7 linked regions of the Homo sapiens genome follow. The protein of the gene in region 5 purifies or fractionates together with the protein of the main gene of each other region. This does not show direct contact. Each region holds a gene or a part of one and is shown on either strand. Other genes may lie near its edges. The genes, in order: OAT, ZRANB2, HACD3, NBEAL2, CSNK1G2, GPATCH8 and LARP1.

The links.
Region 1: the proteins of CSNK1G2 (region 5) and OAT purify together in Homo sapiens (affinity purification with mass spectrometry; one large-scale study listed by BioGRID and IntAct). This does not show direct contact.
Region 2: the proteins of CSNK1G2 (region 5) and ZRANB2 purify together in Homo sapiens (affinity purification with mass spectrometry; one large-scale study listed by BioGRID and IntAct). This does not show direct contact.
Region 3: the proteins of CSNK1G2 (region 5) and HACD3 fractionate together in Homo sapiens (co-fractionation; one large-scale study listed by BioGRID). This does not show direct contact.
Region 4: the proteins of CSNK1G2 (region 5) and NBEAL2 purify together in Homo sapiens (affinity purification with mass spectrometry; one large-scale study listed by BioGRID and IntAct). This does not show direct contact.
Region 6: the proteins of CSNK1G2 (region 5) and GPATCH8 purify together in Homo sapiens (affinity purification with mass spectrometry; one large-scale study listed by BioGRID and IntAct). This does not show direct contact.
Region 7: the proteins of CSNK1G2 (region 5) and LARP1 purify together in Homo sapiens (affinity purification with mass spectrometry; one large-scale study listed by BioGRID and IntAct). This does not show direct contact.

What each region holds. Positions count from the first base shown.
Region 1 is NC_000010.11:124,416,124-124,420,174, forward strand, and holds the start of OAT (ornithine aminotransferase, mitochondrial isoform 1 precursor), read right to left. Parts: upstream 2,801-4,051; 5' UTR 2,750-2,800; intron 1-2,749. UniProt on the Homo sapiens protein: Catalyzes the reversible interconversion of L-ornithine and 2-oxoglutarate to L-glutamate semialdehyde and L-glutamate.
Region 2 is NC_000001.11:71,074,536-71,078,035, forward strand, and holds part of ZRANB2 (zinc finger Ran-binding domain-containing protein 2), read right to left. Parts: intron 2,343-3,500; coding exon 2,260-2,342; intron 1-2,259. UniProt on the Homo sapiens protein: Splice factor required for alternative splicing of TRA2B/SFRS10 transcripts. Binds to ssRNA containing the consensus sequence 5'-AGGUAA-3'. May interfere with constitutive 5'-splice site selection.
Region 3 is NC_000015.10:65,568,463-65,571,962, forward strand, and holds part of HACD3 (very-long-chain (3R)-3-hydroxyacyl-CoA dehydratase 3), read left to right. Parts: intron 1-1,628; coding exon 1,629-1,741; intron 1,742-2,510; exon of another isoform or gene 2,511-2,611; intron 2,612-3,085; coding exon 3,086-3,192; intron 3,193-3,500. UniProt on the Homo sapiens protein: Catalyzes the third of the four reactions of the long-chain fatty acids elongation cycle. This endoplasmic reticulum-bound enzymatic process, allows the addition of two carbons to the chain of long- and very long-chain fatty acids/VLCFAs per cycle.
Region 4 is NC_000003.12:46,996,666-47,000,165, reverse strand, and holds part of NBEAL2 (neurobeachin-like protein 2), read right to left. Parts: intron 3,416-3,500; coding exon 3,333-3,415; intron 3,213-3,332; coding exon 3,120-3,212; intron 2,908-3,119; coding exon 2,733-2,907; intron 2,606-2,732; coding exon 2,472-2,605; intron 2,100-2,471; coding exon 1,940-2,099; intron 1,704-1,939; coding exon 1,601-1,703; intron 1,450-1,600; coding exon 1,287-1,449; intron 1,208-1,286; coding exon 1,049-1,207; intron 897-1,048; exon of another isoform or gene 867-896; coding exon of another isoform or gene 852-866; coding exon 692-851; intron 537-691; coding exon 451-536; intron 278-450; coding exon 1-277. UniProt on the Homo sapiens protein: Probably involved in thrombopoiesis. Plays a role in the development or secretion of alpha-granules, that contain several growth factors important for platelet biogenesis.
Region 5 is NC_000019.10:1,979,172-1,981,838, reverse strand, and holds the end of CSNK1G2 (casein kinase I), read right to left. Parts: coding exon 2,591-2,667; intron 2,521-2,590; coding exon 2,436-2,520; intron 2,345-2,435; coding exon 2,196-2,344; intron 2,088-2,195; coding exon 2,004-2,087; coding exon of another isoform or gene 1,929-2,003; coding exon 1,822-1,928; intron 1,691-1,821; coding exon 1,636-1,690; 3' UTR 501-1,635; downstream 1-500. UniProt on the Homo sapiens protein: Serine/threonine-protein kinase. Casein kinases are operationally defined by their preferential utilization of acidic proteins such as caseins as substrates. It can phosphorylate a large number of proteins. Participates in Wnt signaling.
Region 6 is NC_000017.11:44,426,907-44,430,406, forward strand, and holds part of GPATCH8 (G patch domain-containing protein 8), read right to left. Parts: intron 1-3,500.
Region 7 is NC_000005.10:154,796,877-154,800,376, reverse strand, and holds part of LARP1 (la-related protein 1), read right to left. Parts: intron 787-3,500; coding exon 618-786; intron 505-617; coding exon 335-504; intron 1-334. UniProt on the Homo sapiens protein: RNA-binding protein that regulates the translation of specific target mRNA species downstream of the mTORC1 complex, in function of growth signals and nutrient availability.

The sequences.
Region 1 (4,051 bases), on a different chromosome or scaffold from region 5:
CTCCCAGGGACTGTGCAGACTTGTAACGGGTCCTAACACTGCAGGCCACTTGTTTTTATGCCTATAAGTCTATACTCTAAGCTCCTTTAAAAAACAGTAAAATTCACTTTGCATTCCTAGAACCTAGCCCAGGTTGGGCATCCTGTGGGCCTTTATCAGATAAAGAGGTCAGTCTTACTTAGGACTCCTGAGGGAGTCAAGGTAGCAAGTGATCAAGACCATGGGATCACCTATCCCTGACCAGGTTGAGTCTAACTCTAAGAGGGGGTGTTCACTCTCTGACCTCATCTAGAATAACTCATCTCTTCATCAAGAGTTTACTTCATTAGATCTAATGGCCTTCAAAGGTCAAAATAATGTGTTCCAGGCAGCTATCATGCATCTACCTGACGCCCATACTCAGGTCCTGGAAATGAGAACAAATTGCTCTTGGCAAGCTAGAATTCTAACACTGAAGGTTTTATCCACGTAATTAACAGGGTCCTTCAGGCTACCATTACTCCCTCCATCTAGCCCATCCATCTACATTAGAACATACCTACAGTAGAATTTCCACAAAAGGCTGCATTTTGAAGTTAATTTAGCCTATACTCTTAAAAACTATTTTCTTACTCTAAAAGAATAGTCGGCGTAAAGTTGTCCAAAAGCCACTTAAAATATTCAACTTGAGGAGTAAATTTGTTCTTGCTATTTTGACAAATATTTACTTTTCCTGAGGTAACCATTCACAAATACAGGCCTTTAAAAAAAAAAAAAAAAAAAAGTTCTACCAACAGAAGTCTCTTTGACGTAATCAGTATTCTGGCTAAAATTCAAGCCAAGTGCATCATTGGCAAACAACTAGTTTTACTACTGAGAAAGGACCGGGGTCAACTACAGCACATCCTCCACACACATCCAAATTCGTGCATTCATCACTATTTGTAAATGTTTGAGATTTGAAAGGTCCTCAAGAACTCACTAAAGGGCATAAAATATGCACACAAATAACTGTAATAAAGGCACGCTATGGGGATAATACATATTAAGACAGCTGCTTTGAGGGAAAAATGTCTTTTAAAAATGTTTACTATTTAAAGTTATACTGGATTTTTCTTTGGGGGGGGGATGCAAAACTAATCTTAAACACCATGAAAAACTGTAAACCCAAAACTATAAGCTTTTTTTTTTTTTTTTTTTTTTTTCGAGACGGAGTCTGTCGCCCAGGCTGGAGTGCAGTGGCACGATCTCAACTCACTGCAAGCTCTGCCTCCCGGGTTCAAGCAATTCTCCTGCCTCAGCCTCCCGAGTAGCTGGGATTACAGGCGCGCACCACGATGTCTGGCTAATTTTTGTATTTTTAGTAGAGAAAGGGTTTCACCATGTTGGCCAGGCTAGTCTCAAACTCCTGGCCTCAGGTGATCCGCCTGCCTGGGCCTCCCATAATACTGGGATTACACAGGTGTGAGCCACCGTGCCGGGCTAAAAATAAGCTTTTTAATTTAACGCTCGTTTTTATGAAAAGATTCATCTAAAGACAGAACCAGGATATTCTAATGAAAGGAGTCTATTGTTATTTCACATGGCTAAGAGCGATTGATTACAATCTAAAGAACAGTTCCGGGGTTAACTGAAAGAACTAGCTTATCCACAGAAACCCTTTCAATCCCAGAAGGAGAAATTTAGAATTTGGAAACTGAACATTAGTCATTTCTTAAGGTAAAGCCACTTCATTCCAAAGTCACTGTCTGTTCGCCCTTAATTTATCACCGTAATTTATCTAAGAGGTAAAACTGAACACCGAAAAGGTAAGATGTAGAGTGACAAAAGGAGACGGTGGGTCACAGGGCGAGTGCCCAGGTGACTTCGGGCCTCAGTCCTCTCGCCAGCAAAGGGCGGACAATGACCCCTCCCGTCCCGCCCGGGAAGGCGATCGAGGAAACGCACTGGCCAGGCCCATTTACTGATGCTCAGCAGGGTTTGCAAAAAGCCCCCAACGGGAGGTTTTCATGCTGAAAGTCCTGTTGCCCCCCCATCCCCCACCATCTAATTAACCTGCACGTTACTGTAAGGAAGGTTCTGCTTCCGTAATTTTCTTTATTTCGACAGAGGCTGGAGAAAAAAAATCATAGGCTGGAAGAGGGGAGCGATGGGCAGGCCGATCTGCAGGGCGCAGGAGCAGGCCGGGAGGACCCAGCCCTCCAAGGCTGCATCAGCGCCCCCGCCGCGTGACCAGGGCCACCGGTTTACTGCACAGCTCCCCCGTCCCCAGAACGCAGCCTCCCCGCCAACCCCAGGAACCAAGGGTGCCCAAAGGCCTCCTACCCGGAACCCCGGGGCGCCTCGGGGTCTCTGGGCCGGGTGGGCCGAGTCCTGGCCTCCACAGGCCGCGAGCGCAGGGGGCGGCGGCTCCGCCCGGTCTGGCAGGCGGGGCTGCCACATCCTCAGCCTCTCCCTGCCGCCCGCCCGTCGGCCGCTCTGGGCTGGAACCAGGACTCCGGCCTGCAAGCCGTGGGTCGCCACGCCCCTGCCCCCTGAAGCTGCGCGCCGGCCGGAGACTCCAGGGCGCCCGGGTCCGAGCCGCCCGCAGAGTAAACGGGCCGCTGAAGCGGGGCTCGTTCCCCGGCCGAGGCCCAGCGCGCCCCCTCAGCCAGCATCCCCCGAACCCGGGCCGCGGCCACCCCGCGCCCGCCCGCCTCCCCCGCCGCTGTCAGGGAACCCCGGCCAGGGCCCGAACCAGAGCCCCAGGACAGCGGCGCCCAGACGGTACCTGACAGCGCCTGAGGACAACCGGGTACACGCGGCGTCTATGAAGCGCAACAGTGACGCCGGAGAGTCACTGCAACTTAAAGGCTGATTCTGCCCCGCCCCCAAGACACCCTCGCCGCTCATTGGCTGGGGCGGAGGGCAGGATACCAATCGCGTGGGTCCCGTCCTCCGCCCCGCCCTCCGGCCGCGCATCAAGGATCTTTGCTCCTCCCGCGGATTCGATCCGCGCTCGCGCCTCCTGAGCCCGCCGGCCTGTACCTGAGCTCAGGCCCCTCGGTCGCCTCCTCTGGCGGGACGAGAAGAGTCCTTGTCCGCCCTTGCTGACGAGAAGACTGAGGCCCGAAAAGGAAAAGTCTGTTGGGCCCCCCACTGCGCGGGCCGGGTGTGGCTGGAGGCCGAGAGACGTGAGGCTGGACCGCCCGCCCTGTGCTCCTGGAGGGAGGGACCAGCCCCAGCTCTGCCCCAGCCACAGCTGCGGGAGCCCCATGCCCTTGAACCCTGATGCGCCGCGCGGCTTAGTTGTGCCTCTGAATCCACCTCCAAAAGTCGTCGCTGCCTATGGAAAACACACTGCCCACCTGTTCGCAGCTGCTGTCAGATAATTGAGTGGCAGCAACCCACTCACAGTACAGATTTGCCTGTGGTGCCCTCCACAGCCGGTTATTAAATTCAGAACACAAAATAGATATTCCGGGACAACCTCATGTTAGAATCGGAAGGGACTTGGACTTCACTTAGCCCACAACAAGATGTTAAATATTGGAAAACAGAGACCCAGAGAAGGAAAGCGACTTACCCAGTCATCCAACAGTAGGGGCAGTCTGGTCCTGTGTGCCCCTCGCCACCCCTCTCAGAGGGCAGGCGCTGGCAGCTGCCGGCACCACACTCCATTAGACCACAATGACCAGTCGGGGGCCCAGCTGGAAACAGAGGGCACACTCCAATGTGAACATTTCCTAAAACGTGGTGGTGGGGGCCCGTGGTTCATGCCTGTAATCCCAGCACTTTGGCAGACCGAGGCAGGAGGATTGCTTGATCCCAGGAGTTCCAGACCAGCCTGGGCGACACAGTGAGACCCCGTCTCCACAAAAAAAAATAAAAATTAATCTGGTGTGGTGGCACACCTATGTTCCCAGCTACTCCAAAGGCTGAGGTGGGAGGATCACTTGAGCCCAGGAGGTTGAGGCTGCAGTGACCTATGACTGCACCACTGCACTCCAGCCTGGGCAACAAAGCAAGACCATCTATCTTAATCAACCAATCAATCAATCAATGTAGGCAAGTAAACCACAAGGGATGGAGA
Region 2 (3,500 bases), on a different chromosome or scaffold from region 5:
TCTGTGATTCTACACCCTGAACAATTAATTCAACTCCTGAGAACATATTCTAAGGAAAGAATCCAAAAGAATAAAAATCACAATGTACTAAGTTTGTTTTTATGCCATTATCTTTAATGGTTTTTTTTTTAAAAAAAAGCTGACAAAAACAAAAATAATCCTAAATCCTGAAACAGAGAAGTAAATTACTGAACAATTTGATGGAATTATGCAGGATAAGCCAGCAGCAATCTTTCAGAGGTAGTGAATCACATTCTCTTTTATTCATATCCTGTCTCATGCTTAGGAAATGCTCCCCAAACCCTGCACTGCTTTATTACAAATAGCCAAAAGAAAGCGGAAAGCAACAGAGTAAGTTATTTCACACCTTCAACTGTTACCAGCAAAGACAAATACTTGTAGCAAGGGAAGTGAGAAAGGTTCAAGACACCAGAATGACTGAAAAATGACAATAAGAAAAGTGAGAAGTTATCAAATAAAATTTGCTTACTTCTCTGTTAAACTATAGTTCTTGTGATAATGAAACTATAAAGGAGTCAGGAAATAGGTCAAAGTTTTTTTAAGTTTTGAAACTGTTAAAAAGATTTTAGACTTTATCCTAAAAGCAATCAAAATGGGTTTTTTAAAAAAGGATTTTAAATTTGGAAATAAAAACATGTAGAAACCAGCTAGGTGGCTATTTTTCCACAAAACATAGTAATTCTTTGCCTAGGGTGGTAATGGAAAAGAATTTTTGGGGTATGGGAGATATCAAGAAAGGGCTATTTAGGCTAAGAAGGACATCTAGATTTCCAGCTTATGTAATAAATGTATGGTGAGTGGTACTAATCATGAGAAAGAGATCATTGGAAGAGGGTCAGGTCCCAGGGGTAAAATCACAAATTCAGTTTGAATATAATGAGTTTGACATTTGCATGGCAATGTTGAATAGGCAGCTGGATATATGGGTCAAAGAAGTCTGAGCTGGAGACATAAACTTGGGTTATCATGGCAAAGTTACTTAAACTTTGGGCTTAGAAGAAAACACCATGAAAATAGAGGAAAGAAAGAGGGCCAGGGATGGCTGCGAAGAATCCCAACATCAGTGGCCAAAAGAAGAGAAACCTGCAAAGGAGACAGAATAAACAATCAATCAAACGGGGGTTGGTGGGGGCGGTGAAGGAGGTACGGTGCATACCTTAGGTGAGGGAAGAAAAAAACGAGATCCTTGTCAGAAGGCCTTAACTTACCCAATCGGTGGAAAGGCAAAATCACTTCCTAAGAATAAGGCAGGATTTGAGGGTTGAAAGTGGCGGTTGGGCTGGGGAAGGGGGGATCAAGGACATTATGTTATAATGTTCTCACATATGAGAATGTAAGTTTTAAAAAAGGGGTGGGGGGGGATAAAAGTAGAATTTCTGTTGAAGTCTGGAAGAGCTAGGTCGAAAAGATTGAACAGTGGCCCTCTGATCCCTAGAAACTAAACAGACAATGAAAACGGCCTAAAGTTAGAGAGGCAAAGAAAACAGGGAAGCAGTTCACCAAGCCTAAGTCTGACAGGGTGACTAGATATAGAAGGAATCCTTTGATCATGTGACATATAAGCAGTTGAAAGACAAAATCAGATTTTAAGTAAACAGATAATGTGGTTGGGCTAATTGGTGATAATGGAAAAACTATATGCTATTAGGTAAACATTTTCATTTCACCAGTAACATACAAAGCCAATGATCAACTATTATTTAGGCCAATGATTATCAAACACCATCCAAAAAACCTGCAGATGTTGGAAACCCACCGCCAAATAACTTTAACAGTTCTGCATTTTGCAATCGATATTTGAAAAAGTTTTTCAGATAATCTAGCACATAGCTTAAGTTTCAGAATTACTGCCAAAGCTTTAGAAGAACACTTTAAATGGTGTGGCTTTGCCCTTTAAGTCACAGCAGGCTATCAAAAGAATTTAAAAATGGTATCATTATATCATTACTAATAACAAACATGCAAACCAGTGAAAGGGAGAGGAGGAGAATATTTCTGAAAGTATTCTTATGTCCCTCCTTGTTAGGATAAAGGTCCCTAACACTGTTATTTTATAAATTGTGAAACAAAAGATTTGTATGTGTGTATGGGGGGAAAAAAATCCCAGTAACAAACATTCAGGGCAGAATAAACAGAATCCTCACTTACTGTGGCTCTTACTCGAAGGTGATACAATTATCGTTTCAATATTTAGTGCTTTAAAAAAAATCATTTAGTTACAATGTGGTTTTATCATACCTGTTCTTTCTTCTAATTTAGCATACTTTGGAGTATTACACATATTACACTCTGATCTTCTGGCCCAATTCACATTGCTGCAACTTTAGAAGTGAAAAATACTAAATTAGTAGGCTATAATATAGATGAATATCAAATTTTTAGATATTTTACAATTTTAAAATAAAAACTAGGATGAAACCACTGTCAAAGAAATGTTTATTAAGTGGTAATGTAAACAAAGAAAATGTACAGTGGCCTGAAGAGTAAATGTGGGTTCCAACAACGGACTGAACCATTTAAGCAGAGAAGCAAAATTTATATAGTATGAAAAGTGCCTCTGTCATTTTGAGAAGTAAATGACAAATTATAACCACAGGTCGAGTATCACTAATCCACAAATCCAAAATCCAAAAACGTTCCAAAATCTAAAACTTTTTGAGAGAGGACATGACACTCAACAGAAACGCTCACAGGAGCATTTCAGATTTTCAGATTAGGGATGCTGAACCCACAAACATTTCAGGTAAGTGATACTGAACCTGTATAGAAATTCTGATGTCTTATGAAAAAATATAACTTTAAATTAACAGCTCCACTAATTTCTCAGTCTCTGAATATACCTTAAAGAGTATGGTTATACCCTATAAATAATATTAATTTATTTTTTTGAGGTCTCAGTTCAAGCACTGAATTCCAAAGCATACCAAATCCAGTGACCAAATCTGTAGCTGGAAACTTTTCCAATACAAATTTATAATCCTGAGGATCAGAAATTTATTTAAGACTCTAGGGTCAGGAATAGTGGCCCATGCCTCGCCTGTAATCCCAGCACTTTGGGAGGCCAAGGCAGGCAGAATGCTTGAGCTCAGGTGTTCGAGGCCATCCTGGGCAACATGGTAAAACCCTGTCTCTACCAAAAATATAAAAAAATGAGCCAGGCATGGTGGCATGGGCCTGTGGTCCCAGTTACTAAGGAGGCTGAAGTGAGAGGATTGCTTGAGCCTGGGAGGTAGAGGTTACAGTGAACTGAGATCGCCCCACTGCACTCCAGCCTGGGTGACTGAGTGGGACCTCATCTCAAAAACAAAAAATACAAACAAACAAAAAGAGAAATTTATTTAATACTTTTTTGATTTAGACCTCTTTCATACACATAGGATTCATCTGCATAGAGAAAAGATGGAAGTTGGAAAAATCAATGAAGAATTAAATCTAAGCCTGAAAATAAAAATCATTAAGAAACCTACCTATAATTAGAC
Region 3 (3,500 bases), on a different chromosome or scaffold from region 5:
ATTCTCCTACCTCAGCCTCCCGAGTAGCTGGGACTACAGGCATCTGCCACCACGCCTGGCTAATTTTTGTATTTTTAATAGAGATGGGGTTTCACCATGTTGTCCAGTCTGGTCTTGAACTCCTGACCTCAAATGATCTGCCAGCCTCGGCCTCCCAAAGTGCTGGGATTACAGGCATGAGCCACCGCACCCAGCCATTATGTGTATTTTACCACAATTTTTAAAATGGGAAAAAGAAAAAAGCAAAAGGTCGAGAATATTCTTTAAAGACGAGCTCAAATTGGGGACTTACCCTATAAAAAATCAAGACAGTATAAAGATTTAGTAGCTAATACCACGTTGTATGGTACAAAGATAGTCACACAGACCACGGGAACAGAATAAAACCCAGAAACAGACAACCCAGATATCTATGAAGAATAGAATGTCTATCATATATTGGAATGTCTTGCCACGTGAAAATGAGTGGACTATAGCCACATGCATCAACATAGATGAGTCTTGGCCGGGCGCGGTGGCTCATGCCTGTAATCCCAGCACTTTGGGAGGCCGAGGCGGGTGGATCACAAGGTCAGGAGATCGAGACCATCCTGGCTAACATGGTGAAACCCCGTCTCTACTAAAAAATAGAAAAAATTAGCTGAGCGTGGTGGCGGGCGCCTGTAGTCCCAGCTACTCGGGAGGCTGAGGCAGGAGAATGGCATGAACCCGGGAGGCGGAGCTTGCAGTGAGCCAAGATCGTGCCACTGCACTCCAGCCTGGACGACAGAGCGAGACTCTGTCTCAAAAAAAAAAAAAACAAGACCAAAAAACATAGATGAGTCTCTGGCCCGTAACTCTGAGTAAGAAGTAGTCACAGAATGATACATATAGAATGATTTCAGAAAGTTTTAAAACAGGCAAAATGAAACAATATACTGTTCAGGAATACATACACAAGCAGTAATTCATAAAGAAAAGCCATGGGCCAGGCACAGTGGCTCATGCCTATAATCCCAGCACTCTGGGAGGCTGACGCAAGAGGATCACTTGAGCCCAAGAGTTTGAGCAAGCTTGGCCAACACAGTGAGACCCCGTCTCTACAAAAAAATAAAATTAGCCAGTGTGGTAGTACACACACCTGTGATCCCAGCTACTTGAGAGGCTGAAGTGGGAGGATTGCTTGAGCCCAGAAGTTCAAGGCTGCAGTGAGCCATGATTGCACCACTGCACTCCAGCCCGGGTGACGGAGCGAGACCCCGTCTCGATAAAAAAGAAAAGCCATGGAATTATTAACACATGATAGTAGTTATTTATAGGGGTCCCACGTTTGTAGTGCTCTATTTCTTAACTTGGGTTATATAAACTCAAATGTTTATTTGGCAGTATTCTTTAGACTGCGTTTGAACATGTGTCTGTATTTTAAAGAAATGATTTATGATATAGTTACACAAAATACTGTACCTGTCTAGTCACAAAGACTGGTTTGGGCACTTTACTTGTTCCAGAACTGGAGCAGGATTAAACTGGTCGAGGTCAATCTTTTCTATTTGCCTTGCATTTAGTGGGGTTAGATTTCAGATAACACATTTCTATAACTTTACATATATTTTATTAACTTTTTTCTCTCTTTTGGGTCTTTCTAATAGCTTCTTGGAAGAAATTTTATTTTGTTTATCATCTTTGGCACCATGGAAGAAATGCAGAACAAAGCTGTGGTTTTCTTTGTGTTTTATTTGTGGAGTGCAATTGAAATTTTCAGGTGGGTAGAAATGCCAGGATGGTGTTTGAATGCTGCTCCCTGTTTGCAGCAGCTCTGTTCTTGAGGGAGTTGTTATCTTAGCCAGAGTCTCATTTGGTTTGGGACTAAGATTACATATGTGGAGAATTCTGGTTGCACCTATGTGCTCTGCAAAGTTGAGACAGATTTTTTTAAAGCCGTCATTGGATCATAATACCAGACTGGATACTAGGGAGCAGAAGAGGAGAACCAGAGAAAGGGAAGACTCATCTTACCATGACTTCAGGATCTTGCAGTCTTGGAAAGAGAGGACCCATCCACATGGAAAAATTCTTGAAAGGGCTGAAGAAACAGGAGGTTGAAGGAGCAATCCAGGTTGGATAGAACTAATTTAAGACTAAATTTCTACAAGGGATGATAGAAATGAATCTTATACCACAAGATTATTGAAGTTTGAAATGGCCTCTAACCCAATTTTCCCGTTCTCGGTTGTTAGTAGCATAAATATCTTTTAAGAAATGGATCTAGTTAAAGTAGATGTATTCTTCTTTACCAGACCATACACACTCCATATGTCTTCCCTTTCAGTCAGCTGGAGCAAGGATTTTGCAAATGAACTTCTCAGCTCCAGGTTTGGTGGTATTTTGACAAAGTTGCTAGTTGAGAGAGAGAACAGGCCATAGCAGCCTTAAATTGTGTCTTAACCATGGTCTGTGTCCCATGGCACCCAGTGTACCCTCTAATAGCCTTAATACAAAGGTAAAACAGATTATAGGTCCTATGTTTTTCAAATCAGACACGTAATGTGCTGATGTAACAAGGTTTGAGGGAAGCACATCTCACACAGGAGAGTGAAAATCCAGTTATCACACTTATGAGCTATAAAAGGATCAGATTATGGGTCCTTAATGCAATGTTTACTGTTTGAGAAGGAACATTTATTTTCTCAAGGGATGTCTTTTAAAATAGCATATGTCTGATTCTAGATTAGAGGTCTTCTGTATACTTTAATTTTGGTAACAACTCACTTATCCAGAAATAAAGTATCTAATATCCTTACCCACCGGGAATGTATATCAGCACTAGGAATAAAGCCAAAAAACATCTGAGTATCCAGTCCGTTTACCGAATAAAGAGGGTTCCTTTGAGACCTAAACTTAGTCTGCCATTAAAGAGCGTTCAGATCCTTTGAAAATTTAGGGCGCAGTGTGGCAGGAGTTTATGGGTTGATAGCCAGCGTTATAATTCTGTTCTGAAGAAGCCATGTGTGGCTGAGAAATAGAATTCTTCTATTTAAATGATATTCTAAGGTTGCATTCGGAACCTGAAGTGGCTTTTCACATTGGAATCATTTATTTTCAATAGGTACTCTTTCTACATGCTGACGTGCATTGACATGGATTGGAAGGTGCTCACATGGCTTCGTTACACTCTGTGGATTCCCTTATATCCACTGGGATGTTTGGCGGAAGGTACTCTCAGGGACTCTTAGCTTTCATAGCTTAGCTCCAGGGGGTACCCAGAGGCTGAGAGACCAGTCCTTTCTTCCCCGGCCTTAGTCCGATAAATGGAAATGTTGGATTTTTCAGGGATTTCTTTCCATGGGCTTCCTTCCATAATACTCCTGGTACCCAGACTGTTCGAGAAAAGTAGCTCATTTTGTAACATTGGAAAGCCAGGTGGTTATGTCCTGCATGCTTCCCATTTGTATGATGCTTTTAGTATTCCAAAGGGGGTTCTTACTGATGACTTTATTTTATTCTGACAAACATCTCATACA
Region 4 (3,500 bases), on a different chromosome or scaffold from region 5:
AGGGCGTGCAGAATGGGGAGAGAGCATGGTAAAAGCCATCAGGGTCAGGGCAGGGGGCCTCTGAGGGCAGGAAGACATCTGAAGGCTCAGCAGGTGACTCAGTGGGTGGCTTGGGTGGGGCTGGCTTGGGGGAGGTAGGTGACTCTGGGGAAGACGGAGGGGGGCTGCCGGCTGTGGCAGCCTCCAGGACATATAGCCGGGTCAGCACATCTTGCCAGCCAGCCTGTCGGGCCAGAAGCCGCACTACATCTGGCTGTCCGTAGATGAGGTGGAAAAGCTGCAGGCGAGAGCACAGCAAGTGAGGACGCATCCAACTGCCTGCTCCAGACCCTCATCCAGGGCCTTTGCAGAGGAGGGCTCCAGAGACCCCTCATGAGACAGGCAAGGTGGAAGGCCAGAGGGTAGAAGCCACCCTCCCCCTCCCCCAAAGCTTTTACCTCTCATGCTCACCTGGCGACAGATGTCTAGGCGAACGCTGAGGTCAGCCTGGAGGGACAGCTGTACCACAGCCAGCAGATCTGAGAGGTTCAGGCAATCTGGGGGGATGGGTTGGGGGGACCTGAGGGACTGACCAGACTAGAAAGGGCAGGGCCCAGCCCTGGCCCCTATGCCACTATCTTCCTTCTTCCGGCCTGCCTGCCCTGTTTTTCTGACATGTCACCCCCTCCACTTGGCCTTAACCAGGTTGTACCTGCCCCCAGGAACAGCTTGTAGAGGCCCTGGCAGAGCTGGGGGGAAACAGTCCCCTCAGGCAAGCAGGCAACCAGACCCTGGAGACCACACTCCCGCAGCCGGAGGCGCTGGCGGCTCCGCTCAGGTAGCCGCTCATTCTGCTGCAGTCTGCGCAGGATCTGTGTGGGGGTCATCGGAGGACTGTCATCATGTGGAAGGAGTTACTGTAGGAGGGGAAGTCACCGTGCAGGTGTGTGGCTCAAGAGGCCCTTGAAGGCAGCTTCATCCGCTGGCCCAAGGCCTGCTGTACCTCCCTGAACCCCAGGCAGGGGCCCCAGTGAATGGGATGCCAGGGGAGGGGGTGGGCTGGGTGTACCTTGCAGACTCGATCGGGCAGCAGGGGCAGTGACCCTGGCCGCACTAGCAGGGCCAGTAGCACTTCGAGGTTCCCTGGCTCCAACAGAAAGACAGCCAAGGACTCCTGCACCAGGGAACCGTGCAGCAGGGCCAGCAGCAGGTCCAGCGCACCCACCGCCTGGGGATGCAGGGTCTCACACTGTGTCGGGCCCCCACTCCCCTCACCCAAGCCTCCCGCTCCCCAACCTCCAGCCTACCTGACCGTCATCGCCTGTGGCCGCCAAAAAGCTCAGCATGGTCTGCGTGACCTGCACGTCATCTGCTGAGAGACTCCGCACCAGGAACTCCCTCGCCAGGCCCAGGAGGGAGGTCTGCACGGTGCGTAGGTCGTCAGCAGCCAGGGGGCGCTCCCGCTGCGGGCTGGCAGGTCAGTAGGCACACCCAGCCAGGTCCCAAAGAAAGGCGGGGAGAGAGGGTGGGCAGGTGAGTCAGGGAAGCGCACCGCCCAGTCCCCAAGGCCGGAGGCCACTGTGTCAGCCCCCCATGGCCCATCTGGCCCCACTGGCCTCACCTGTAGTGGGTGCGCAGAGCATCCAAGATAAACTGGACGCCGTACTTCTTCCGCAGCTTCTGTCTGTGCTCCCGAACTATGCTGGACATGTACTGGATGTGACCTGAGCGGGAATGAGCAGAGGGCTCAGGCCACTAGGCTGAGCTGGGCCCTTCAGATCCTCCAGGCCAGGGCCATGTGCCTGTCAGACTTCCAGGGCAGGGTCATAGTCCCCTCAGCCGCCCCATGGCATTCTGGATTCCTAACAGGTGAGTCCCTCAGATCCCCCAGAGCAGAGTTCTAACTTCTCAGTGCTCAGCTGCCCTATGGCCGGCCCCTTGCTCAGGTCCTCACACCTACCGAGGCGCACGGCGAAGTCACTGAGGGTCCAGAGGTGAAAGTTGAAGAGCAAATGCTGGTAGAGTAGGTACAGGAGGGGCCCGCTGCCCTCAGCTGCCACCTGCTCCATCAGCAGCTGGGCGGACATGAGCACGTTCATGTCCATGGCCCAGCTTGGGACCTGGGATAAGACAGGAGCTGGAGTGAGGGCTCAGGCTCTGCCTGTCTGCTGTCTGAGCTTTTCAGCTGCCACTCTTCCCTGCACAGCCATGACGGCCACAAACATGGCCACCAGCCTGCTCAGAACCCTTTGGGGGCTTCCTGCCGCCTCTGACACGCAAGCCTCCTGCCTGCTGTGCGGGTCCCTGCCCCGACCTGTGCTGGGCCTTTCCCCAGATCCTCCAGACCCAACCCTGCTCGGCCTTTCAGGCCCCACTCAAGTGGCAACTCTCCCAGGAGGTTCTTCATGACTGACAGGGTTCCCCACTCAGTCCCCTCGGTCAGACAGGCTGACCATACCCCTAACCCCCATGCCTGTCCCACCGGGCCCCACCTTTCGCAGGAGGGCCCCGATGATGGCAGGCCCCTGGCACTGCACCAGGCTCTCTTGGTTCACCATGTGACCCTGAAGGAAGTTCCGCAGCATCAGCAGAAAAGCAGCCACTGCGTTCCTCTCCATCCGTTCCTCTGCCAGCCATCAGGAAGGGGACAGATGTGTGTCAAGGGCCTGCCAGTGGCCAGGAGACCTTGGGCATTCCACCCCCCTACCATGCCAAGATTCCCTCTCCACAACATAGGCACCAGGAACACTTACCTGAAGATTTACCCAATGGGAGAACCAGGCCCTGGGTGTTGTGACCAGAGGTCAGTTCAGGACCCACGAGGTCATGCGTTTCAGCTGGACCTGCTTCAGCCTCTTTGGGCTGTGCAGCTACTCGCTCCAGCAGGGGCAGCAGGGCACCCATACCCCCAACGCAGTTCACCACATCCTGGGGGAAGGAGGATGGCAGTGAGGGGGACCTTCCAGCCAGTTTCCTGCCCTACTCCACCCCAGCAGACCACCCAGAAAGGAAGTTTTGCTCTCTTGAGCTGGACTGTCCAAATCCTCCCCAGGCACAGCGCTGCTCCCCAGCTGACTCCGAACACACATGTGCCCCATATTCATGCCTCCTGCACACACCACCCACACGTGCTCACAGACCTTCACATCCCAGGTCTCCACTCTGTGGCCCGTCAGGCGCCCATCAAGCCCATGACTGGGGGACAGGTCCAGGCAGATGTTGTTCTTACAAGCCTAGGGATAGGGGAATGGGCAGGCAGCCAGGGTCAGAGGGAGGAGGGGGTGGCAGGCAGAGTGTGGGAGCCGGGGAAGTAGCACAGTCGAGCCAACCACTCCCCTGGGGCCCCCAAATACCTGAGGTGAGTAATGGAGGAGCAGCCTGGTGCTGAGCTCATGCAGCTCCCCCTCAGGCTTGAAGGGTGCCGTCTCATTGGGCCCTGGGAGGTGGGCAGGGGGCTTCAGACCTTGCTAGGCCTCTGGCCAAACCCCATCCAGAGACTGCCTGACCACAGGAGAGACCCC
Region 5 (2,667 bases):
CGGGGCGGAGCCGGGGCTAGTGCTGCCAAGGTCTTCACCTGCCTGCAGTTTCCGCTGTTCTTCTGGGAGCTACTGCTGATTCCCTTCACAGTGTCGTGGCCCCCGTGGAGATGTTTTCTGCCCTGCTGCGTGAACAGAGGGAGTCAAGGAGGCCTTCCGCCGTCAGAGCAGCCAGGACCATCCTGCCTGGGCCCCGTCGCTGAGGCTTTCAGGTATATTTGTGTAGTGTCGGGGAACGGGACCCCCGGGGCCAAGTCGCATGTGTGTGACTTCCCCTTTCCATGGTACGTGAACACTCGTCTCCTGCCCTCTCCCCAGACAGAGCCCAGCTCTGCCCTCTGCTTCCATCTTCCTTACCTTCCGCCTCATCAGTCGGTTTCTGTTACCGGAGGCCGCCAGCCGCTCCGGACTCGTCCCGGACAGGCAGGATGGGGATGGAAGCAACGCCCGTTCCAGGTCAAGCTTCGTGGAAAGCCCAGACAAATCCCTCTACACTTGGGTTTGGTTTCATTTTTCTTTTATTTTTTTAAAAAAGCCCCTAAATTCTATGGCTTCAAGGGAGCATCAGAGAAACGTAAATGCCATTTCTGTACACTTGGTAAAGCAAAAACTAGACTCACAGCCACCGCCCTGGGCACGGCCCCAAGCTGCTCCACTCTGCCCGGCAGCCTCCAGGGCACCCCACTGGGGAACCGCCCGCCAGTCCAGGGCCGCCCCCAGGCCCCTGCAATATACCTGCAGGGCTGGGCCGGGGGCTTTAAGGCGTTTTGTCTCCGGCTGCTTGCCGGGTGTCGGAGCAGAGAGGCAGGAAGCTCCGTGCCCACGCGCCCCACGCGGCAGGGCTGAGGGCCGAGCAGGGTGACACCAACCGGTCCTCCCACCTCGGGTTCCAGGCGCCGGGGCGCAGCCTCCGGGAGCAAGTGCGTCGAGAAGCACCCGCCTGGCAGCGCCCACCCGCCCCTTGCCAGGGCCAGGCTGGGAAGAGACTGCAGCAGCCGTGCCCGCGGCGCCCGAGCTTTGGTGCAGCATTTTGGTTGGGGAGCCGGCTTCAGCCACGGCCCCACCCCTGCCTTCCCCTTTGGTTTCGGGGAGGCCTGGGGCACGGCCTCACCCCTGGCAACAATGCCTGTCCCCCTCCCAGGAGGGCCTGGGCAAGACAGCTCCACAGCACCCCTCCAGGCCGGGCCTGCCCTCCCCTCGAGAAAACGGCCTTTGGATCGAGGGAGACAAGCTGGACTTTATGACGCTAACGGGGGCGGCTGGCGGGGCGGGGCCAGGCCGGGGGGCCTCCAGGATCACACTACTCACTTCAGCAAAGAAACGGAGGGGCAGGAGTGGGGTAGGGCGGGCCTCTGTTTTTTTTTTCCTCTTTTCCTTGTTTTAAATAGTTAATGCTCTTGGAGGGGAGGACTAGACACAGGTGTAGAAATTTCGGCCAAAGTCTTACATGAAGGAAGTGACCCCACGTCCCGGGGGTGGGGCCGCCTGAGCCAGGCGCGGCCCCTGCAGTCTGCGTTCTGGCTTCCAGCCAGGGTCTGGCCCTGGGCCGCTGTGGGTGGGCCCCGAGGGCCTCGCACAAGGTCGCGCCCCAAGGGGCTGCACGGAGAAGATTCAGGGGGCTGCACGCGCCCAGGGTCACTTGTGTCGCTGCAGCGATTTTCTCTTTCTCCTCTTGAAGAAACAGCAGCATCTGAGGAGGGCAGTGGCTCAGGTAGGAGGACCGGGGTGCAGGGCGGGGGCAGCCCAGGCCTCAGGCCCTCCCACCCCCATGGGGACCCAGGGCACCCCCACCTCCCCGAAGGCACCGCCCCAGAGCCTTACTTGGTTTCATCGGCCACCTCCACCTCTGCAGGCGCTGTGATCGGGGCGTTGGAGTGGCCGGCCGTGGGGTCGTCCGCATTCAGCTCCCCGTTGGTGGAGTTCAACGCCTGGTGGGGGCAGTAGGGGGTCACGCTGGCCGCCCATGCCCCTCCCTGGGGCGGTCGGTCCCGCCCGGGCCTCACCTGGTTTTTGCTGTGCGGCTGGGTTTTGTCCCGGAGCTGAGGCTGGGAGGGCAGGTCGGTGTGGACGGTGCCGATGGGGGTCGGCTGTGGGTGAGGGAGCAGGGGTCAGGATGGGCTGCAGCGCCGGTTCCCATCTCCCTCAGGGCAGTTTCCCGGTCCCCCGCTCCCACATACCGGCACCCCCCCACCTACCAGGGGCTTCCCGGCCCAGTCGTACTCATAGTCGAACACGAAGCCACTGCGGTCGAAGAGGTCGGTGAAGAGCTTCCGCAGGTAGTCATAGTCGGGCTTCTCGAAGAAGTCCAGGCGCCGCACATAGCGCAGGTACGTGGCCATCTCCTCTGCAGAGAGAGCGCCAGCGGGGCCTCGGCGGGGGTGGGGGTGGGGGGTGGGGGGTGGGGGGCACAGGGCGGGGGCGCAGGGACCCCTTACCTGGGAAGTTCTCGCAGAGCACCTCGATGGGCGTGGCGCGTTTGGTGTCCCCGATCTTCTGGTACCGCTCCTTGAGCGTGTCGGCCTGCGGGGGTCTGTGGTCAGCCTTGCTCCCGCCCTGCGTCCCCGCCCGCCTGCCCGGCCTCCTCGCCCACCTTGAGCCCCTGCCAGGGGAGGCTGCCGCGCAGGAAGTACATGAACATGTGGCCCAGCGCCTCCAGGTCGTCGCGGC
Region 6 (3,500 bases), on a different chromosome or scaffold from region 5:
AGTGGTACAATAAATACTATAAGATATCTAAGGAAAGAATTAACTTAGGATTTTATATGTATCTTTCAAATATAGGGAATACATACACGTATATATGGAGTTATATGTATGTGTACATATATACACACATATACATAAGTTGATATATATGTAATTGCCTAAATTAATATTACTATTTTTTTTTTTTGAGACAGCGTCTTGCTCTATTGGCCAGACTGGAGTGCAGTAGTGCAATTACAGTTCACTGTAGCATCGACCTCCTGGGCTCAATTAATCCTCCCACCTCGGCCTTCTGAGTTGCTAGGACCACAGGGGCATGCCACTATGCCTGGCTAATTTTTGTATTTTTCGTAGAGACAGGGTTTCATCATGGTGCCCAAGGCTGGATGTGAATTATTTTTATAGGCTTATGTTTATATAAAATACATATATATATAAATAATTCAAGAAACACTGTTTGCACAACCACTTTTAAGTAAGTTAATAGGGTACAAAATTCAGAAATAATAGAAGAAAACTCAGCAAAAGAACTGGCAGACTGCTTTAAAACCATTTACTCCTATAACTAAGGTTAAAAGAAATAGGGCTATTAAAGTATATACATATAACTGTAACATATACATATAACTATGTATGTTATATGCTGTCAGAAAATAGAAATGATACAAATAATAAAAAACTGGGTGGGCAGGCAGAAGCAGATATGAATTTGAGTTTGCTTACTTCTGCAAACTCAATAGAAGTAAAAAGAACTTTACAAAACATGAAAATTATTAAGTAATAGAAGTAGTGTACATAATATAATAATTAAATGGTATGAAGCCACATACTAAGAATGGCCATTTTACTTATTAACATTATATGATAGAGTTTTTAAAATGGAAGAGGAAAGAAGAGAAAACAAGCTAGCTTTTTATTGCTTATAGTACGAAAATAATGGACACTCAAACATGGGTAATTTCATTAAGTTATAAAGGTAACTAGAACAACACAAATATAATCCATCCTATATCCATCCATCCATCCATGTATCCATCCATCCATCCATTTATTTCCCACTTTGAGACCACATAATAACTTAAAAAATAAAATAGGCCAGGCGTGGTAGCCCATGTCTGTAATTCCAGCACTTTGGGAGGCCGAGGCAGGCGGATTACCTGAGCTCAAGAGTTTGAAACCAGCCTGGGCAACATAGCAAAACCCCATCTTTACCAAAAATACAAAAAATTAGCTAGGCGTGGTGGTGTGCACCTGTAGTCCCAGTTACTTGGAAGGCTGGGGAAGTCCTTCAAAAAGTACTCGTAGGCTGGGTGCGGTGGCTCATTCCTGTAATCCCAGCACTTTGGGAGGCCGAGGTGGGTGGATCACCTGAGGTCAGGAGTTTGAGACCAGCCTGACCAACGTGATGAAACCCTGTCTCTACTAAAAATACAAAAATCAGCCAGGTGTGGTGGTGGGCGCCTGTAATCCCAGCTACTTGGGAGGCTGAGGCACGAGAATCACTTGAATCTGGGTGGTGGAGGTTGCAATAAGCTGAGATCGCACCATTGCACTCTGGCCTGGGCAACAGAGTGAGACTCCATCTCAATTAAAAAAAAAAAAAGTACTTGTAGAGGCCAGGCATAGTGGCTCACACCTGTAATCCCAGCACTTTGGGAGGTTGAGGTGGGTGGACAGCTTGAGCCTAGGAGTTCAAAACCAGCCTGGGCAACATGGTGAAACCCTGTCTTTACAAAAAATATAAAAATTAGCTGGGTGTGGTGGCATGCACCTGTAGCCCCAGATGCTCGGGAAGCTGAGGTGGGAGGATCGCTTGAGTCCAGGAGGTCGAGGCTGCAGTAAGCTGTGATCACTGCCACCGCACTTCTAGGTGACAGAGTGAGATCCTGTCTGGGTGACAGAGTGAGACCCTATCTCAAATAAACAGTACTCATAGAATATTTACACAGACAAGGCCAGGCACGCTGGCTCATGCCTGTAATCCCAGCACTGTGGGAGGCCGAGGTGGGCGGTTCACGAGGTCAGGAGATCGAGACCATCCTGGCTAACATGGTGAAACCCTGTCTCTACTAAAAATACAAAAAATTAGCCGGGCGTGGTGGCAGGCACCTGTAGTCCCAGCTACTCGGGAGGCTGAGGCAGGAGAATGGCATGAACCCGGGAGGCGGAGCTTGCAGTGAGCCGAGATGGCGCCACTGCACTCCAGCCTGGGCGACAGAGACTCCATCTCAAAAAAAAAGAATATTTACACAGACAAAAAGCCCATTATAGGCTATAGAAGAAACTGTAATAAAGTCAGAAATGAAGAAGTAATATGCACAACATATATCAACACAGTATAATACAGCTAAGAATTAACAAAAATGTTTAAAAGACCCTTCCATGAATCTGAAGCTGCAGAATTTTAAGGTAAAAAAGGATAATGACAACATTATACAGAGGCTAAAGTATATTGCTTTAAGAAGTTAAGCCTATGTGTATTCCTTGAACACAGGTTTAACCCCTTACAGCAATGGAAACAAGAAAATAAATAAATGTCACACTCTGGAGAAAATCTTGTGTGTATATATATATACAAGAAAACTGATTCCACTTATATAAAGTTAAAAAACATGTAAAACTAGGCCACGTGGTGGCTCACGCCTGTAATCCCAGCACTTTGGGAGGCCAAGGCAGGTGGATCACCTGAGGTCAGGAGTTCGAGACCAGCCTGGCCAACATGGTGAAACCCCGTCTCTACTAAACACACACACACACACACACACACACACACACACACAAAACAACAAACAAACAAACAAACAAAAACCAGCTGAGCATGGTGGCACGTGTCTGTAATCCCAGTTGCTCGGGAGGCTGAGGCACAAGAATTGCTTGAACTCAGGAGGTGAAGGCTGCAGTGAGCTGAGATCGTGCCACTGCACCCCAACTTGAGTGACAGAGTAAGACTCCGTCTAAAAAAAAAAAACAAAATTAGCTGGACGTGGTGGCGCACGCCTGTAATCCCAGCTACTTGGGTGGCTAAGGCATGAGAATTGCTTGAACCCGGGAGGCACAGGTTGCTGTGAGCCATCGTGCCACTGCACTCCAGCCTGGGCGACAGAGCAAGACTGTCTCAACAAAGCAAGACTGTCTCAAAACCAACCAACCAACCAACCAACTCACCGACCCACCCACCCACCCACTACATAAAACTAAGCAATACATATTTAGGATACAAAACACATTAAAAAACCATTTTAAAATGCAAGGGAAAATAGAAGAGGAAGGAACACTTCCTAATTTATTCTGAGTATTACCCTGATACAAAGACATTACAAGAAAACTACAGACTAATATCTTTTCTGTGTACAGATGCAAAAATGCTCAACAAAATGCTATCAAACCAAATTCAACAGCATATTAAAAGGCGAAGTGGGATTTATCCCAGGAACTCAATGTTGGTTCAACATACAAAAATCAATCAATGTAATACACCACTACAATGTAATACACCATTA
Region 7 (3,500 bases), on a different chromosome or scaffold from region 5:
CAGCCCCAGAAATTTAGATGGAGCAAAAAGAAGAGCCAAGAATCAAGAAGCCAGAAACATCGCTGCCAGATGCTGCATGATCCCTTAAGAAAAATGTCACCGAGGAACTCACACAGTAGGGCGCCCTAAAGGGTGGTTCCCCACAGGAAATGGAAACAAGCCAAATCAACCTTTCTGTAGCCACTACTGGTAACTTCAACTCACACTATGATCCTGAACTACCCAGATTTCCTGCTGGCCCCTCAGAGCTAGAGTGCTGTGCCCATGTGTTATCCCCTTCAAGCACCCTAGCTCAGAGTGCTAGAACCAAGGCAAGGGACAAGGCCTCACCCACCTTGGGCCGTGCTGGGGATGGCCGAGGCCTCTTCTTCACTTCAATCCAGTTCTCAGAATCCAGGTCAGGCAGGCTGGCAGACAGGCCCTTGGGTAGTGTCTTTAGGTTGCTGACCTCCTCTGTTTTGGTTGGCACTGGGGTGACTGCACGAGGAGAGCCAGGTGCCGACTCTAAAGGGTGGAAAGGGGAAGTCCTCATCCCTCCAGTCCTCCTCCTGATGCCAGCCCTGAGGAGGACTGTTGCCCAGAGGACAAGGGCAATCTTCATGCCAGCAGGTACCTACCTGTCTCCTTTTGGTAGTGCTGACGGGGAACAAATTCAGGGCAGTTGAGAAGCTGGGAGAAATCAGTCTGTGAATAATCCACTATTGGGGGAAGAGGCCACTTTTCTGGTTCCTCCCTCCTACGAACTTTCTCATCAACGATCTCCACCACCTTGCTGTCCTTTAGGGCCTGAAGGGGAGGAGAAGGAAGAGGGGATTAAGAAGAAAATCTTGGACAGAAAGATCTTGGAAATGGTAGACAACTGGGTTCCCCTGAGCTTGGTATGAGTCCAATGCTACCAGTAATATAAGAAAATTGACACCATCTTCCACGACTGGTAGATAATGTGAGATGTTCAAACTTGTAGGAGGTACCAGCATAATAAATACACCTACCCTTTTACTCTTTGAGCCTGCAATCCTACTTCCAGTAATCTGCTCTAGAGAACACTTGCACAAACAGGGAGCAGTATGTATAATATCTGGACAAAAAGCCATTCACAGTAAAACTAGAGTAGAAAAAGAACTATAAAATACCTAACTTGCCATCGCATAGGCAATTTAAATATTTACAGCATATGCATGATGGAACACTACTCAGACATTAAAAAACTTTACAGGTCGGGCCTGGTGGCTCACGTCTATAATCCTAGCACTTTGGGAGCCCCAGGCAGGCAGATCACAAGGTCAAGAGATTGAGACCATCCTGGCCAACATGGTGAAACCCCATCTCTACTAAAAATACAAAAATTAGCTGGTTGTGGTGGCACACGCCTATAGTCCCAGCTATTCGAGAGGTTAAGCAGGAGAATCGCTTGAACCCAGGAGGTGGAGGTTGTGGTGAGCCGAGATGGTGCCACTGCACTCCAGCCTGGGCGACAGGGCGAGACTCCGTCTCAAACAAACAAACAAACAAACAAACAAAAAAACAACCAACTTTACATGTGCTGAGGTGGATAAACCCACAAAATATTAATCAAAAAAGCAGGCTGGGTACAGTGGCTCACACCTGTAATCCCAACATTTTGGGAGGTCAAGGTGGGTAGATCGCTTGAGCAAAGGAGTTCAAGACCAGCCTGAGCAAAATAGCGAGACTCTATCACTACAAATCGTAAAAAGGTGGCGCTGGCATACATCTGTGGTCCCAGCTACTTGGGAGCCTAGATGGTTGAGGTTGCAGTGAGCTTTGATAACACCACTGTACTAACTCCAGCCTGGGCAAAAGAGCAAGACCTAGTCTCAAAAAAACAACCAAAACATCCATCTATAGGAGCAGCAGTTGAAAAAACATGGAGCATTCCACACAATGGTGAACTATGCAACTGTACACAGGAATGAGGAATATCTTTCTATTATATACTGCTACTTTGCAGTTAGCTCCCAGATATATTAAGTTAAAACAAAAAAGAATTGAAGAAATGCCATGTGTTGTATATTTCCATTTACCAAGGATACAAATACATGTAGAGGCATTTGCTTTTTTCTTAAATGGAAAGGTTCTAAAAAGTTTGCCTGTAAGAGAAGAAAGGGTGTAAGTGACAGAATTTAAGTCAGACTTCTATGACTATACCATGCTGAGACTCTAGAACCACGTAAATGTTTTACACAAATGTAAAACAACTTAGAAAATTATAGGGGTAGGGAGAAAGCAATCTCTAAAACTTGGAAGCAAAATAAAACTAATATATATATCAATTTAAATGTGAAACCACACAAAGATTCTTTCAAATGACTTGAAGATACTGTATAAGTGGAAAAACTGTTTTCAGTGGTAGTGGAGGTATTGTAAGAATGTAGAGCTTGGCACAATGGCTCACGCCTGTAATCCCAACACTTTGGAAGCCGAAGTGAGAGGATGGCTCAAGCCCAGGAATTTCAGACCAGCCTGGGCAACACTGCAAGACCTCATCTCTACAAAAAATTTAAAAATTAGCCACACGTGGTGTGCACCTGTAATCCTGCTACTCAGGAGGCTGAGGCAAGAGGATTGCCTGATTTCAGGCGGTTGAGGCTGCAGTAAGCCATGATCACACCACTGCAATCTAGCCTGTGAGAGCAAGACCCTCTCTCTTTAAAAAATGTTTAAAAAAAAAAAAAAAAGACGGTAGACATACTGTGAAATAAAACAAAATGAGTAATTATGTTGGTATCATTAGGAATTAAGATTATGGGCATGGAAGAAAGCAGTAGGTAAAATAAAAGATCCACAAGTCTACGTAAAGACCCTTTAATAGAAAATACCAGAACAGGCCGGGCGCGGTAGCTCATGCCTGTAATCCCACCACTTTGGGAGGCCGAGGTGGGTGGATCACCTGAGGTCAGGAGTTCGAGACCAACCTGGCCAACATGGTGAAACCCCATCTCTACTAGAAATACAAAATTAGCTGGGTGTGGTGGTGCATGCCTGTAATACCAGCTACTTGGAAGGCTGAGGCAGGAGAATTGCTTAAACCTGGGAGGTGGAGGTTGCAGTGAGCTGAGACCATGCCACTGCACTCCAGCCTGGGCAACAAGAGTGAAACTCTGTCTCAAAAAAAAAAAAAAAAAAAAAAAAAAAAACAACAACAACAAAACAGAATAACTCCATGATGTATTTTATCTCACCAAAAAACAAAAAAATCATCTAGAAAGAATGACCAACCAAGTAGCAATAAAGCACCCCTATAACTCAGACTGGTATCTAAATACCATTTCCCAAAAGAAAGGAACTAGAATTCCTTTTAAAAGTGGCCAATTCCAGATCTGGGGCAGGAAATGTATAGGGTCCCACTGACCAAAGGTGGGACAATTTGATCCAATCCATTAACTGCAATGGACCAAAATAAATACGTTTGAGCCCATAAGCTTATAATAACAAATGATACGAAAACAAACCACCAAATCTCACTGGTCACCTATGAAACC